2 separate regions of the Homo sapiens genome follow, and region 1 is linked to region 2. A link means that fine-mapping ties the variant in region 2 to the expression of a gene that starts in the linked region. Tissue or cell type: whole blood. Region 2 holds a variant in brackets; the other region holds the start of a gene. All regions are shown on one strand. Distances are from middle to middle. Region 1 holds the start of ECPAS (Ecm29 proteasome adaptor and scaffold). Region 2 overlaps ECPAS (Ecm29 proteasome adaptor and scaffold).

Region 1 (8,342 bases), 25 kb after region 2:
TGGCTCACACCTTTAATTCTAGCACTTTGGCAGACCAGGAGGGGCGGATCATGAGGTCAGGAGGTCGAGACCAGCCTGGCCAACACGGTGAAATCCTGTCTCTACCAAAAAAAAAATTAGCCGGGCATGGTGGCGCACACCTGTAATCCCAGCTACTCGGGAGACTGAGGCAGAAGAATCACTTGAACCCAGGATGTGGAGGTTGCAGTGAGCCAAGATGGCGCCATTCCACTCCAGCCTGGGCGACAGAGCAAGACTCCGTCTCCAGAAAAAGACAACAAAAAAAATTGTTAAGGTGGTAAATTTTATGTTATGTGTATTTTACTACTATTTTTTAAAAAATAAAGTAAAACTAAAAAAGTTTAACAATTGGCCAAGCATGGTGGCTCACGCCTGTAATCCCAGCACTGTGGGAGGCTGAGGTGGGGGGATCACGAGGTCAGGAGTTCAAGACCAACCTGGCCAAGATGGTGAAACCTCGTCTCTACTAAAAATGCAAAAATTAGCTGGGCGCAGTGACAGGTGCCTGTAATCCCAGTTACTCAGGAGGCTAAGGCAGGAGAATTGCTTAAACCCAGGCGGCAAAGGTTGCAGTGAGCCGAGATCGCGCGCCACTGCACACCAGCCTGGGTGACAGACTGAAACTCCGTCTCAAAAAAAAAAAAAAAAAACTTTAACAATTTTTAAAAATCTACTGAGATGGACAAATGACAAAGTTTGCTATAATAGTAAATATGATAAAGTTATTTGACTATCAATGATAGAATCTAAGTGGTGGGTACACGAATGTTCACTTTCAACTTTTCTGTGTGTTTGAAGATTTTTTACAATAAAATGTTAGTGGAAGAGAACAATGCTGGCATCTAGTAGTTTGCTTTTACTATCATCTACTAGTCATAAATGATAGAAAATATTTGGATAATTCTCTCCTTTTTTTTTAGTGGAATTCTTAAAAGCACCTTTTCTTTTTTTTTTTTTTTTTTTTTTTGAGACAGAGTCTAGCTCTGTTGCCCAGGCTGGAGTGCAGCGGCACAATCTTGGCTCACTGGAACTTCCACCTCACAGGTTCAAGTGATTCTCCTGCCTCAGCCTCCTGAGTACCTGGGACTACAGGCACGTGCCGCCACACCAGGCTAAATTTTGTATTTTTAGTAGAGACAGGGTTTCACCATGTTGGCCAGCCTGGTCTTGAACTCCTGACCTCAGGTGATCCACCCATCTCGGCCTCCTAAAGTGCTAGGATTACAGGTGTGAGCCACCACACCTGGCCAAAAGCACATTTTATCAGCATCTGCTATTTTATTATACCCATTCTAAAACTAAAAGTGGTTTATATGAAACTTCTTAACCAGTGTACATGTATATGCTTTCAAGTTAAATTATTCTAAGGTATCAACTGCAACGTATTCAGTCTCTCCTGAAGAAATACAGAAACCAAGTCCACCGATATCTGTGGCTGATGACTGACAATTTAACTGAACAAAACAAGAAGAAGGCAAGGATTGGAATTATTTGTTCCTAACTTTCCATTAGGTACTAGAGCCAGGAAATCCCTTAACTATCAGCATCTTAACCAGTACCTGAATGTATGGAAGCACACTGCATAGACACAAATACTTCAGCCACTTCAGAATATCCAATTCTTCCTCTAGTTTTGTTCCCATTCCTGCTATCAATTCAGACTTTAATGTGTTTGGTTCTACAACAGGAACTCAGATGTCATACAGCATAGCAATTGAAAAAAAATCAGACCACCTCACACCCAACAGGATGGTTACTACTGACAATATAGATAAGTGTCGGCCAGGATATAGAGAAATTAGAACTCTGTGTATTGTTGGTGGTAATGTAAAATGGTACAACCACTGTCAAAAACAGTACAGTGGGGGCCGGGCGCGGTGGCTCACGCCTGTAATCCCAGCACTTTGGGAGGCCGAGGCGGGTGGATCACAGCAGATCACAAGGTCAGGAGATCAAGACCATCTTGGCTAACACAGTGAAACCCCGTCTCTACTAAAAATACAAAAAATTAGCCGGGCGTGGTGGCGGGCGCCTGCAGTCCCAGCTACTCGGAGGGCTGAGGCATAAGAATGGCGTGAACCTGGGAGGCGGAGCTTACAGTGAGCGGAGATCGCGCCACTGCACTCCAGTCTGGGCGACAGAGCAAGACTTGGTCTCAAGAAAAAAAAAAGAAAAAAGAAAACAGTACAGTGGTTCCTTAAAAATTTAAAACTAGAACTATCACATGATCCAGCAATTACATTTCTGGGTATGTACCCAAAAGAACTGAAAGCAAGGTCTCAAAGGGGTATCTGTACACCCATGTTCACAACAGCATTATTCCCAATAGCTAAAATGTGGAAGCAACCCAAGTGTCCATAGACAGATAGATGGACAAGGAAATGTGATATATACATACAAGGGAATATCATTCAACCTTTAAAAGGAAAAGAAATTCTGACACACGCAACAACATGGATGAACCTTGAGGACATTATGCTAAATAAAGATAAAACCAGTCACAAATTCTGTATGATTCCATTCACACGAGGTAGGAAGAATACTCAAAATCACAGGGACAGAAAGTACAATGATGGTCGCCAGGGGCCGAAGGGAGGAGGGAATGAGGATTTGTTGTTTAATGGGTATCAAGTTTCCGTTTTACAAGACGAAGAGTTCTGGAAATGGATGGTGGTGATGATTACACAACAGTGTGAATGTACTCAATCCCACTGAACTGTACACTTAAAAAATGGCTAGGACGGGAAATTTTATGGTATGTGTACTTTTCTTCCAATTAAAACAAAACATGGAACTGATCTCAGAAGGCCTGGTGGTGCTTCCACGTGGAACCGACAGAAGAGCAATCTGTAGCCCGCTTCTCTCTCTAATCGCACCATGAGACCTTGTCTCCTCCGACTCTCCAATCTGCTCAGGATCACACCAAGTGTTTACTTCAGCTTCAAAAAAAGCAAACAGTACTCCTGCTCCACCAGTTCTGTGTCAAAGCAGCAAGGAACTTAATCTCTCCAAACCTGCCTCCTCTTTAAAACAAGGATAATTCCTACCTATCTGCCTCACAAGGTTGCTATGAGGGCAAAAGTGAGATCATGTATATAAAAGTGGCTTTAAACTGACAAGCACCAGAAAAACATACATTACGTGTATAACTACTTTCATATGGAAATTCAGAAGCGGCTTTAACAACGTAAGCTTCATAAAGCTTGCAACACCTCACCCATGCTTTATTCCATTTAAAACCCACATCATCTTCAAATAACACCTTTCTTGTTTTTGCCATAAACTGAAGGGCAGCATTGGGAGAAAAAAAAAAAGGGAAAGAAAGAAAACCCTTGGGGGGGAGAACACTCAAAACGCAATCAGAAATTATCTCACATGTCCTATGTCCTATGAAACTTCGGTATTTATGACCCCAGCGTGGGTCCGCGGCGCCCCGGAACTACACTTCCCACAAAGCATTGAGGCGAACCCCGGCGGCGGGCGGGGCGGCCTGGGATTCAGGGTGACCACCGCTCTCCCCAGACAGGGACCGCCGTCCCCGGGAAGGCTGCACCGCGTACGATCGAGGGGGCACTAACTCTCCTTTCTGAAAGCGCTGTCACCCCGTGGTTTCTCCTGCGGTTCGACCGGCGACCCTCTCCGCCCTCCCTGCTCCATCTGAGGGTCACCGCCTATTCGTGACCTTTCGGCTGATTACTAGAGTGTCACAAAAAGGCACCTTCTCCCCCTTCCCGAAAGCTCCATTTCTATAACTCAACCAGCCGTCGGGGACCCGGGGCCAGGCGGGGTCAGACGGGACGGGCGGACACTGCCCGTCACCCCGGGGCTCCGGCCCTCCCGCCAGCCGAGGCTCAGTGGGCAGGGGGCTGGGCTCCCCCGACCCCGGGCCAGGGCGGATCGCGGGCAGAGGTGGCTCCGCCCGGGGCTCCGGTTTCAATTTCGCAACGTGACGGTGCAAACCTGAGGCCTACAAACGCCAGCGGCGACGGTCCGCGCCCCGCCCGTCCGCCAGGCCCGGGCTCCCCAGCTCCCCGTACGCCGCGGCCGCCGCCCGCCCACCGGGCCTGGCGCCCCAGCCCTCATGCGGCCGCCGGCCCCCGGCACCGCGCGGCGCCCGTTCCGGCTCGCGGCCGCAGGTTCGGCCGCGGCACTTACTCAGCTCATCCTGGGAGGCGGAGGCGGCGGCCGCAGCCATGTTGCGCCGGGGAGGGAACGAGGGAGGGGCTGGGGGGGCAGGGCGCGGCCGGGGGGCTCGCGGCTCGCGGTGCGGCAGGGGCCGCGAGCCGCCTCCGTTCACTCGGCGCGGACCGCGCTGTGCCCCGAGGCCCGCCCGCCGCCGCCGCCTGCGTCCTCCGCGTCGCGAGCGTCGCCCTTCGCTGCCCCCGCGAGCTCGCGACTCGGGCGCTCCCGCAGCCTCGCGCCTCTGCGGAGCCGCTGCCGCTGCCGCCGCCGCCGTCTGTGCGGCCGAATCCCCGTGCGCCAGGCCCGCGCGGCGGCTCTGCGACTCCGCGCCGCGCTCGCCCAACTCACGCCGGTTTTATATTTAGAAAGAGCTGAGCCATCCTCCCAGCGGCCCCCCCGCCGGGCCCCTCGCGCGCCCGCCCGCCCTCGCTCGCTCGCGGCTCGTCCTGCCCACCTGTCGCCGCCCGCCCCGCGTGCGCTCCCCGCGCGGACTCGACACGCGGCGGCCTGTGCGGGCGGCCCGGCCTAACCGCGCCGCCGCGCGCGCAGGGCCAGTCCCCCGCGGCCCGGGGGCGGGCCTCTGACCTGAGTCGGAGCCGGTCTCCATGCCGCGGACGCTGCGCTCGGCGCCGCGAGGTGAGGGCTGTAGAGCGAGGCGTTCGGCGGGCCGGGCCCCGGGGAGCCGCGCGCCGCAGTCCGTGAGGGGCTGGGCCGAGCGGGCCCGGGCTGCCCTAGCGGCCGGGGGAAATCCTCGAGGCGGGGCCGGAGCGCCCTTTTCCGAGGTCTGCGGCTGTCACGTTGGCTGGGCCCGACCTGGGGAAACACGCCTGTCCAAAGGAAGAGACGTGGACTCAGAAAAGTAGAGCCGGGCTCGGAGTCGGCGGGAGGAAGCCCCGCCCTGCGCCTCCCGCCGAACTTCTCGGCCCCGGCGCTGACTCAGTCCCGGACGAGCCCCTGCGCCGCAGCGGCCCCCGACAGCCCAGTTCTGGTGTGGAGGTGGCTGGTGCTCCCAAAACGGCTAGCGGGAGCAGGGGGTCCACTCAGCCCTGCAAAAGTTAGATAAGGCAAGATTCCTAAAGTTCACATGGAAGTATCTATGCCTATGTGAGCTCTGAGATTTTGTTCAGATACCCTATGTTCTTTTCGGTAACTAGAGTGATTTATTTTCGATATGCTGATTTTAACTTTCTGCCTTCGCTTTGTCCGTGAGGTCATGTACACTTGCAAAATGAAATTCAAATTCAGGGGTTGCATAATTGCTGTACTTTAAGTGATGGTACTGTCATAACAAATTAGATACAAGATCAGATACTTTTTTTATATAAGAAGAAATCAAGTCTTAAATAGATTGAAATTGCATTTATTCCTTAAAGCAGAAATCTATAAAGCCCTAAGTAATGTCTTAAAAATGGAATATATGTCATTCCTGTTGTAACATAGGCCAAGTACAAGGTACAACACTGAAGACATTTTTATTTCCTTTATTGTTTTTGTTATAGAAATTATACATGATCTTGGGCCGGGCGCGGTGGCTCACGCCTGTAATCCCAGCTCTTTCGGAGGCTTAGGCGGGTGGATCACGAGGTCAGGAGTTCGAGACCAGCCTGGCCAACATGGTGAAACCCTGTCTCTAATTAAAAAATACAAAAATTAGCTGGGCGTGGAGGCGCGCGCCTGTAATCCCAACTACTCGGGAGGCTGAGGTAGGAGAATCGCTTGAACCCGGGAGGCGGAGCTTGCAGTGAGCCGAGATCGCACCACTGCACTCCAGCCTGGGGGACAGAGCGAGACTCCGTCTCAAAAAGAAAAAAAAAAGAAAAATTATACATAATTTTTGTAAAAAAAAAATGCAAATGATTTGGAGTATCATAAAATTAAAAGTGAAAGTCCTTCCTCCTAGCCCCACCATCCCACTCTGCAGAGAAATTATGACTAACAGTTACAGTTAAGTGTGCAGAAGACCTTTTCTCTGGACATATATATACAGCCCCATGTATGGCTTTGATGGGGACAGGTTTCTACAATAAAGTTCTGGATCAATTATTCCTTCACACACATTGTTCCATGTTAATTCAAAACACTGCACTACCATCACCCTTTTTTGTTTGTAACTTCATACTACACTAAGTTAACCAACCCCTTTTTTCATGTATGCTCCTCTTTTATTTGATGTTGCCTCCAAAATAAATACACAATGAACTACTTACAAACAATAGAGAGGTGTATACAGGTCTTCTCCCAACTGCATACCCACCATCCCCCCTCATCCCACTCATGCCCATAAATAATCCCTATTAACAGTTTGGTGCATTCAACCTTTCCTTACTGTTTCCGTGACTATAGAAAGTAGCTGCACCAAAGACTGGTTTGGGGAAATTTGACTTCCCATAATTTCAAATGGATCCTTCCAAAGCCACCCCAGATAAATACAGAATCTGAGTAAAAAACAATGGGTTTGTTATTTTATTTTATTTTTATTCATTTATTTATTTATTTTATTTTATTTTTTGAAACGGAGTTTCGCTCTTGTTGCCCAGGCTGGAGTGCAATGGCGCGATCTCGGCTCACCGCAACCTCCGCCTCCTGGGTTCAAGCGATTCCCCTGCCTCAGCCTCCCGAGTAGCTGGGATTATAGGCATGCGTCACCACGTCCGGCTAATTTTGTGTTTTCAGTAAAGACGGGGTTTCTCCATGTTGGCCAGGCTGGTCTCCAACTCCTGACCTCAGGTGATCCACCCACCTCGGCCTCCCAAAGTGCTGGGATTACAGGTGTGAGCCACCATGCCTGGCCGTTAGGCAATTTTAACCTCCAGGCAAGACTAGTTAACAAATCCTTAGTTCCTCCTATGAAGAAATTCCAGGTTCTCTGCGTGTACAAATCACATGAATGTGTGTACACAGATTTTTGTTAGTTTTGACAAAAATGGAACTCTACTTCCCATATTATGTAACGTTATCTTTTCACCAAATAATGTATTACAGGTGTCCTTTCATATCAGTAATGATAATAATGGCTAATGGAATAATAATTATGCCAGACACCATTCTAGTGTTTTACTTGGATGAATTCATCTAACCCCCACAACAATCTTATGAAATAGGGATTTTTATGGCACTGGATGGTTGAGGAACACATCTAATGTGCCACAAACTGGAAAGTAAGTGGTGGAGCTGGGATTTGAACCTGGGCAGTGTGGATTCAGAGTCAGCTTGCTTAATCACTAGGATCAGTATGTACAGAACTACCTCTTTTTTTTTTTTTTTTTTTTGAGAGGGAGTCTCGCTCTGTCCCCCAGGCTGGAGTGCAGTGGCACGATCTCAGTTCACTGCAACCTCCGCCTCCCGGGTTCAAGCGATTCTCCTGCCTCACCCTCCTGAGTAGCTGGGATTACAGGCATGTACCACCACGCCCAGCTAATTTTTGTATTTTTAGTAGAGATGGAGTTTCACCATGTTGGCCAGGCTGGTCTCAAACTCCTGACCTCAAATGATCCACCTGCCTTGGCCTCCCAAAGTGTTGGGATTACAGGCGTGAGCCACTGTGCCTGGCCTCATTTTTTTTTTAAATGGCTGCATGATAAGTACCAACAAAATGTATTTAACCATTTCCCTATTGATGAGCTGTTAGGTTGTTTACAGTTTTTTACTAAACAATACTACTGTAAAACATTCTTATACATATCTTTATGTAATCACATATTTCTAGATGTAGATGTGGAATTGTTAGGCAAAAAAAGATCTTAAAGTCTCATTACATACAGTAGTTTATAGCAACTTACAGTGCTACTTCTGATCACTACTGTGTAAAGCTCTAAGCTTTTTTATACTTGCTTCTTCCATCAAACTACTTGTAGTTCATTTTTCCCACTAAATAGCTTCATGTTCATATGAAACACTTAGGTTTTGAATAACAGCAGCCTTGAGATAGTTCCTGTCTAGAATTCACTTCAGCTGTCAAAAACAGAGGCAAGAAGGAATTGGGGTGAGGAGGAAAACAGGAGCCAGAGAAGAGGCTACTGAGAAACCAAAATAGGATATCATAGAATCCAAGAACTAAAAACCTGTCCCCTCTCCTCTCATGTAGGCTGTCTTCACATCAAACACATATACAGTTCTAACAAGATTTTTAAAAATCTTGT
Region 2 (8,342 bases):
GCTGGCTACACCAGAGGAAAAGGTAAAGCCTTCTACCTTTGAGGTGAATCAATCTAACACTGTTACGTCATCTTTACAGACCCATCTATACTTAAATAAAAGATAAGCTTGTTCAAGTTTCACAAAAAAGAAGAAAGGTCAACATCTACAGATATAACTGCTATATTTTTCTTTTCCTTTTTTTTTTTTTTTAAATAAGACAGGGTCTTGCTGACACCCAGGCTAGAGTGCAGTGGCGCTATCCACAGCTCACTGCAGCCTCAACCTCCTGGGCTATTCTCCTACTTCAGCCTCCCAAGTAGCTTGGACTACAGGCATACGCCACCACACCCAGCTGATTTTTTTATTTTTTGTAGAGACAGAGGTCTCTGGTCTTGAATTCCTGGTCTTGAATTCCTGGCCTCAAGACAGAGGCTGGTCTTGAATTCCTGGCCTCAAGCGATCCTCATACTTTGGCCTCCCAAAGTGCTGGGATTACAAGTATGAGCCACTGCACCCGGCCTAAGTCTTTTGAGTATAGTTAAACTTACCATTCCTTCCCTATATGACTTCGGAGTTTCTAGGCATGCTTAGAAAAGTCATTTTCACTGCAAAATACTTTTAAATATTATATTGTGCAGAGAAGAGTTTACACAGACCCAGGACTGCTACCTGTAGAAACACTTGCTTTCGGCCTGGCACATGGTTCACGCCTGTAATCCCAGCACTTTGGGAGGCCAAGGAGGGCAGATCATGAGGTCAGGAGATAGAGACTATCCTGGCGAACACGGTGAAACCCCATCTCTACTAAAATTTCAAAAAATTAGCCGGGCGTGGTGGCGGGTGCCTGTAGTCCCAGCTACTCAGGAAGCTGAGGCAGGAGAATGGCATGAACCCAGGGAGCGGAGCTCGCAGTGAGCAGATATCGTGCCACTGCACTCCAGTCTGGGCAATAAAGCGAGACTCTGTCTCAGAAAAAGAAAGAAAGAAAGAAAGATGTGCTTTCTAGCTGAGGCTGGCCCATGGCTGATATCTGGAAACCTGGATTTCAGCAGGGTTCCCACCATTCCCAGAACTGCTAAGAGTGGTTCATTGTGCCTGTCTGTGCAAATAATATTGTTTATGCTGAACATCAGCTTCCCTTCAGGGCGGAATTTTGGTACATTTTAGGAAGAAGGTACCAACATGACCAGCCCCAAATAAAAACCTGAGGCACTGAGTCTCTGATGACCATCTCTGGTGGATACCATTTCAGAGGTGCTGTCACAACTCACTTCTGGAGGAATCAAGTATGTGCTGTGTGACTCCACCAGAAGATTCTTGGAAGCTTGCACCTGGTTTCCTCCAGATTTCACTCACATGACTTTTCCCTTTGGTGACCTTGCTACACTAAATCTTAGCTGGGAGTACAAATATATGCTGAATCCTGTGAGTCCTACTAGACAATCACTGAAGCTAGGGGCGAACTGGGAGTCTCCTGGCAGGTATATTTACCTATGTTTTCTTTCAAGTACACTTATGATTTTGCTTTCTGCATTCAAGTCTTTGATCCATCTGGAATTTTCTTTTGGTATATGGAGGGATGTAGGAAACAAGTCTTTGGTGGGTTTTTAAAATCTTCTTAACTATGTAATAATACATACAGAAAATCATTCAAAACATAAATGCATGGTTTAATGAATTATTATAAACAATCTTGTGACTACCCCCCAAGTCAAGAAGAAAATTAATTTTGAAGCCTGCATAAAGAAAGATTTGTACTGGACTGAAAACAGAACTGAAGAAGACTGAAAGATTATATAACGTAAAAAAGCACAGTGAGTTTTAAGGACTTGCCCAAGGTCACAGATTAATTAGCAGCAGAGTAAGAATAAGAATGGAGTCTTCTGACCTTTAGTCTAAAAATCCTTGCCTATACCATACAACTGTCTCCAAGAATGACCCTATTTTCTATCAGGTACACATACTGTACATACTACACCTTATACAGGAAGTTTTATTTGAAAGAATATCCAAACGTTCACTAGAATGTGTCTCATTCAGGCAGTATTTATTACAAAAATGGAAAAACATACAAATTCAAAGGTCAGAAAACAACACTAGAGGGAACTCACTACTATGAATAAGAAGCTAACTCCATATGTGACCAGCTGCAGTTCAACCTTTCTCCTCCTCCTTCCTGCTCATCAAAATTCTCTCCTCCTTCAAGGCCCAGCACCCTCCCAGTTTCACAGTCAAGCACTCATTCTCCTATCTAGGTCACTCATTCAAGTATCTACTGAAACTCTACCATGCGTAAGAGCTTGGTGGTCATGGGTAAAAAGAGTGGAGAGGGAAGAGGCATGGATGTTGTCCAGGCTTACCTCACAAGTATATGATAACTGCATGTAGAAAGAAAATAACAGAAGGCCTAGGACAGACTGTTTGCGAACAACAGCATTTAAATGCAGGAGAAGGAAAGTCTGAAAAAGGGAATGGTAGGCAACAGACAAAAATAAAAAGAAAACGTGGGGTCAGAATAATTAAGAAAGATTTTCCTAGGAGACAGCAGTCAACCATTTCAAATGATGCAAAAAGATCATGCAAGATAAGAATTGAAAAGAATCCAGTTAATTCAGCAATAGAGTTCACACCTGACCTTGGCTCAAGCAGTTTCAATGAAGTGGTAGAGAAAAAAGCAGACTGTACAGGGTAGAGGAATCAGTGGAAGATTAAAAAGGATGTGAGGAATACAGTAAATGACAACTCTTTAGAAACTTTTAGTTATGAAAGGGGAGGGGAACAGTTATTTTTCATTATTTCAATCAAATAAGAGCTCTGAGCACATTTAAATAGCAAAAGGAAAAAGCCACTAGAGAGAAAGAAACTGAAGAGGGAAAAAATTATTAGACTGTGACCCTGAGAATATGGGAGAGATTAGGATTCAGCACAAGGTCTGAGGAATTACCTTAGATAGGACAGGAAGGCCATCTCTGCCATTGTAACAGGAGGGAAACAGGAAGACTGCTGTTGATAAAATCAATCTTATAAATTTTATGGAAGGGCCTGAAAGAATTCCCTTCTGATGGTTTCTATTATTTCTGTAAAATAGAAGGCACAGTCTTCTTCTGAGATTTGGAGAGCAGAGGGCAAGTGGGCAGCGTGACAATGGTAGGAAAAGGCTTGCCCCAGAGTGAAGAAGAGAAGAAAATTGACTGGTAAAATGAACTACAAATGTGAAGAAAGTGTAAAGGACCCAATTGAGGTTAGTGAATATAAATTTACAGCAGCATTAATCCACACAGTCAAACAAATAAAAAATAAATCTCCTATCCTTTCTTCCCCCTACCCCTATAGCATTTATATCAGTGTCTAATCACTGAAAAAATACAAACATATACAGACAACGTTTTCCAAACCTTCAGTTATAAATGTGATTTAGGAAAATATCCTTTATTTCACATCAACCAACTAAGGAGAATTTCTGCTAAAAGAAGTATCTAGATTTTGTGTGCATATACATACACACATGAGAAACACACATTAAAAAAGTATAAAATTCCTCCTTTGCATATATTATGGGGACAATTCTAAATGGGCTATTATTTATAAACTATACATTATTAATATAGACTTGTGAAAGCCCAACTAATGATTCTCTCCGAGAGTCTAAGATATAAAGGAGCCAACGGACCTATATTTTCATGTCAGATACATTACTGGTTTTAGTTAGTAAACTAAACCTCTCTAAGGTTATTAATGAACTTGTCTATTAGGAACAGCATAAGATTGCTTCATAAGAATGTTGTGAAACATTATATAATGTTATATA[C/T]GGCTATCATATTACAGATGTAGCTTTTATATTCTTGTGTAATAAAGAATTTAGGTGACCTCTGTCCATGTTCCTGAGAGGAAAGCACTAAACCCTTGGGATTTCCCCAGTAACTGAAGTGCCTTTGTTATTCATGGTGGGACCCTCTAATCACATTTGATAACTTACACTGAGGAAGTAACTCATAGTGGGCCCCAGATTGTTTACGCTAAGAGATAACTCAGGATGGGGGTTGATCACACTAGAAAGACTAATCATCTTGCAGGTTTTCAGCCAGGTGATTAGGGGAGGTGGACAAGGGGAAGGGTTGGAGAGGGAGAGGAGGGTGGGGGGGGTGTTAGAAATTGAGTCACATGGGCAATGATCCAATCAATCAATCACACCTGGTCAATAAAACCCTGGACACCAAAGTTCAGGTGAGCCGGTGAGCTTCTATGATCAGCAGTGCATTGTGTGTATTATCACACATTGCTATACTGGGAAAGTACCCTGACACAACACAAGCTTTGCATCTGGAACCCTCTCAGGCCTTGCCCTACATGTCTCTCCCTTTGGCTGGTTTTAACTTGCATCCTTTTCTATAAAACCATAACCATAAATACACGGCTTTCCTGAGTTCTGACTCGTTCTAGCTAATGATTAAACCTGAGGGGGTCCATGGAGACCCCCAAATCTGTATCCAATAGGTCAAAAGTGAGGGTGGCTCTGGGATAACAGGAACTTGTAGGTGGCATATGAAGTCGATTCAGTCTAGTGGAGGGCTATGCCCTTAACTGGTTAGGTTTGGCAGAGTAATTATATATGATATAAAATATTTTCCATATGTTATATAAATATTGTATATAATTATCTCTCAGAATACATTATTCCTTTAATTTTACCTTTTTCTTTTTTTTTCCCCTTAAGCTCAGTGGCAAGAAGAAATTATTATCTTTTTCTTTTTTGTATTTTTTGTAGAAATGAGGTCTATGTTGCCCAGGCTGCTTGTGAACTCCTGGCCTCAAGCGATCCTCCTGCCTCAAACTCCCAAAGTGCTGGAATTACAGGTATGAGCCATCATATTTGGCTAATTTTACCTCCTTTTTAAATAAAGCTGACTACTACTACAAAAATAAGTATTTTAATAAATCAGAAGTCTACGAAATATTTGAGAACACACATTCCATCAGCTGGGAGCAAAATATGAATTATTAGTAGAATCCCACCTAGAGTAGGAATCCTATGCTAGGTATGTTAATAACCCCATTTACTACCACCAAAGGAAAACTGAGCCAGGCCAGAAAGCTAAAAATCCCATGTGACAATACCTCAGAGACACAAGAGCTCATCATACGGAGGCATAACTTAGTACAAAGTCATAATTACATGATTTTAAGGGGCTTTTTTAATTACTTCTAAAGACAGACCACAATGATACAACTCACAATTATAAATTCTGCTTTAAAAAACTGGTTCATTCTAAATTACCACAAATATGAACTGTATTATTTAAAAACCTCCCCACACAAAAAAATGGCAGGACCTTATGAATTCGCTGGTAAATTCTCCTTCATAACTTCTTCCAGAGAAGAGAAAAAGGTGGGGTAAAGGGATGGCAGGGGAACACATCCCTGAATGTTAAGAGGCCAGAATAACCTTGATACCAAACAAGGGTATCCCCAGAAAGATAAAAGCAAATAAAAGATATTTCTCATGAATATAGACGCAAATGAGATAATAAAATAATATTTAAATCATAATACATAAAATAAGTAAAAAATATGAGTCAAATCCAGCGATACATAAAAAGGATAATACATCATACAAAAATTGGATTTATTCCAAAGATGCAAAGTTGGTTTAATATTGAAAATCAGTGTAATCTGCCACATTAACACAATAGAGAATAACAATCATATGATCATCTCAATATATACAGAAAAGGCATTTGATCAAATTCAACATCTCTTCATGCTAAATAGATGGGAACAAACTATTCATGTTGAAGAGACAAGGAAGAAAAGAGAACTTCCTTAATCTGATAAGAGATTTTTATAAAAACTTACAGCAAACATTATATCTAAAGGTAAAATACCAAACACTTTTCCTCTGAGTTCAGGAACAAGGTAAAGATGTTCACTATTACCAATTCTATTCAAATTTGTACTGCAAATTTTATTCAGAGCAATAAGACAAAGAAAAATAAAATGCATTAAGATTACAAAGGAAGAAATAATATTTTCATTATTTAAAGATAATGATTGGTACACAAAAAATCCAAAACAATCTATGGAAAAATTAATAGAATAACAAAATACACAAATCAATTGGTTTCCTATATAATAGTAATAAACCATTAGAAAACAAAATTTGAAAACACCTATTACAATGACATCAAAACACATCGAATAGCTGGGAATTAATCTAGGGAAAAATGTGTAAGACCTCTACACAGAAAACTAAAATACACCGCTACAAGAAATTAAGGAAAACTTAAAAGATACACCATATTCACAGATTAGAAAATATTAATAAGATGTCAATTCTCCCCAAATTGACCTATAGACAATATAATCCAAGCACAATCCATCAGATAACTTGGGTAACACTAAAAAGCTGATCCTAGAGCCAGGCACAGTGGCTCGAGCCTATAGTGGTTCCAGGCCAGCCTGGGCAACACAGGAAGATACTAACTATCTCAATCAATGAATGAGTGGATGAATAATCTTTAAATGTGTGGATACCACTAGAAGAAAAAAAAAAGTTGATTCTTTCTATAATTTAAAGAAATGCAAAGGACCAAGATTTGCCAAAACTATCTTGAAGAGGAAAAACAGCTAGAAGACTTTGGTCAAATTTCAAGGCTAACTACAGTAGGCTGGGCACAGTGGCTCAGCCCTGTAATCCCAGCACTGTGGGAGGGCAAGGCAGGCTGATTGCTTGAGCTCAGGAGTTTGAGACCAGCCTGGGCAACATGGTGAAACCCCATCTCTACCAAAAAAAAAAAAAAAAATTTAGCTGGGCGTGGTGGCGTGCACCTGTAGTCCCTGCTACTTGAGAGGCTTAGGTGGGAGAACTGCTTGAGCCCAGGAGGTAGAGGTTGCAGTGAGCCAAGATCATGCCACTGCACTCCAGCCTGAGCAAAAGAGCAAGACCTTGTCTCAAAAAAATAAACACATAAAATAAAAACTACAGTAATTAAAAGTATACTATGCTAACAAAAAATAAGTAGACCACTTGAACAAAATAGAAAATGTGTAAAAGACAAACAGGTATATAGTCACCTGGTTTAAACAGAGGTGTCACTGCAATGTAGTGAGTAAATGATGGTCTTTTCAATAAATGGTGTTAAATCAACTGTATTCCAATATGGGAGAACAATATTTAATCCCTACCTCACACCATATCTATTAGTCCGTTTTCATGATGCTGATAAAGACATATCCAAGACTAGAGAATTCACAAAGGAAAGAGGTTTAATGGAGAACTACAGTTCCATGTGGATAGGGAAGCCTTTCAATCATGGCAGAAGGCAAGGAGGAGCAAGTCACATCTTAACATGGATGGCAGCAGGCAAAGGGACAGCTTGTACAGGCAAACTCCCGTTTCTGAAACCATCAGATCTCCTAAGACCCACTCGCTATCACGAGAACAGCATGGGAAAGACTCACTCCCATGATTCAATCATCTCCCACTGCATCCCTCCCACAGCACATGGGAATTATGGGAGCTACAAGATGAGATTTGGACGGGGACACAGAGCCAAACCATATCATCAAACAAAAAGAAAATCAATTCCAGATGGATCATAAATCTAAATGTCAAAGGTAAAACAATAAAGTTTCTAGAGAAATAAAGAATATTCTCATTACCTCGAGATAGGAAAAGATATCTTAAAACAAGAAGCTAGATGGTAAGGGAGTCTGAAAAATATGATTAGCAGAATCTGTCCCAAAGAGTAGTTTATAACTGTGGAGCTGGAAATAACCGTCACTGAAAGAAACTTTCATAATCTGACAAAAAGCATCTATGTAAAATCTACAGCAAATATATCTCATACAAAATCAGAAACAAGATGTGCACTATCATCACTTCCAAGCAAATTGAACTGGAACTGCTAGAAAATGCAATATGGAAGTAGGAGATACTAAAAACTGTCAGTATTCACAGATTACATGATATTTATGGGATAGGGTATGTAAAATAAGAAAGTTAATTATGTTGCATACAAGATCAGAGTACAGAAGTCAACTGAGATAAATGAGAACAAAGTATCAATGTAGTTTTTAAAAACATATAATTAACAATGGCAATAAAACTACAAGTTATCTGGAAATAAATCTAATGAAACATGTCATAGTCCTTTACAGAGAAAATTATAATCCTAACTATAATTCATAAGATCTAAATTAATGGAGAAGCACAACATTCATGGAATTTTTTTTTTTTTTTTTTTTTTGAGACAGAGTTTCACTCTGTCACCAAGGCTGGAGTGCAGTGGTGCAATCTCGGCTCACTGCAACTTCTGCCTCCCAGGTTCAAGCGATTCTCCTGCCTCAGCCTCCCAAATAGC

The links. PIP is the estimated chance that this variant, and not a neighbour inherited with it, causes the effect.
Region 1: it holds the start of ECPAS, and the variant in region 2 is fine-mapped to the expression of ECPAS in whole blood (TOPMed, PIP above 0.99). The same link has a PIP of 0.9 or more in CD4 T cells, T cells, blood mononuclear cells and naive CD4 T cells.

The regions. Positions count from the first base shown.
Region 1 is chr9:111,479,328-111,487,669 of GRCh38, forward strand. It overlaps ECPAS (Ecm29 proteasome adaptor and scaffold), which reads right to left and starts at 5,056. Exons shown (of 50, transcript NM_001364929.1): 1 at 4,789-5,056. RefSeq lists silencers at 3,686-4,105, 4,376-4,495, 4,616-5,155.
Region 2 is chr9:111,454,533-111,462,874 of GRCh38, forward strand. The region is part of intron 2 of ECPAS (Ecm29 proteasome adaptor and scaffold); the gene reads right to left. Among named protein-coding and RNA genes, the nearest start is that of ECPAS, 26 kb to the right of the region's middle. The variant C/T (reference allele first, on the strand shown) is at 3,791.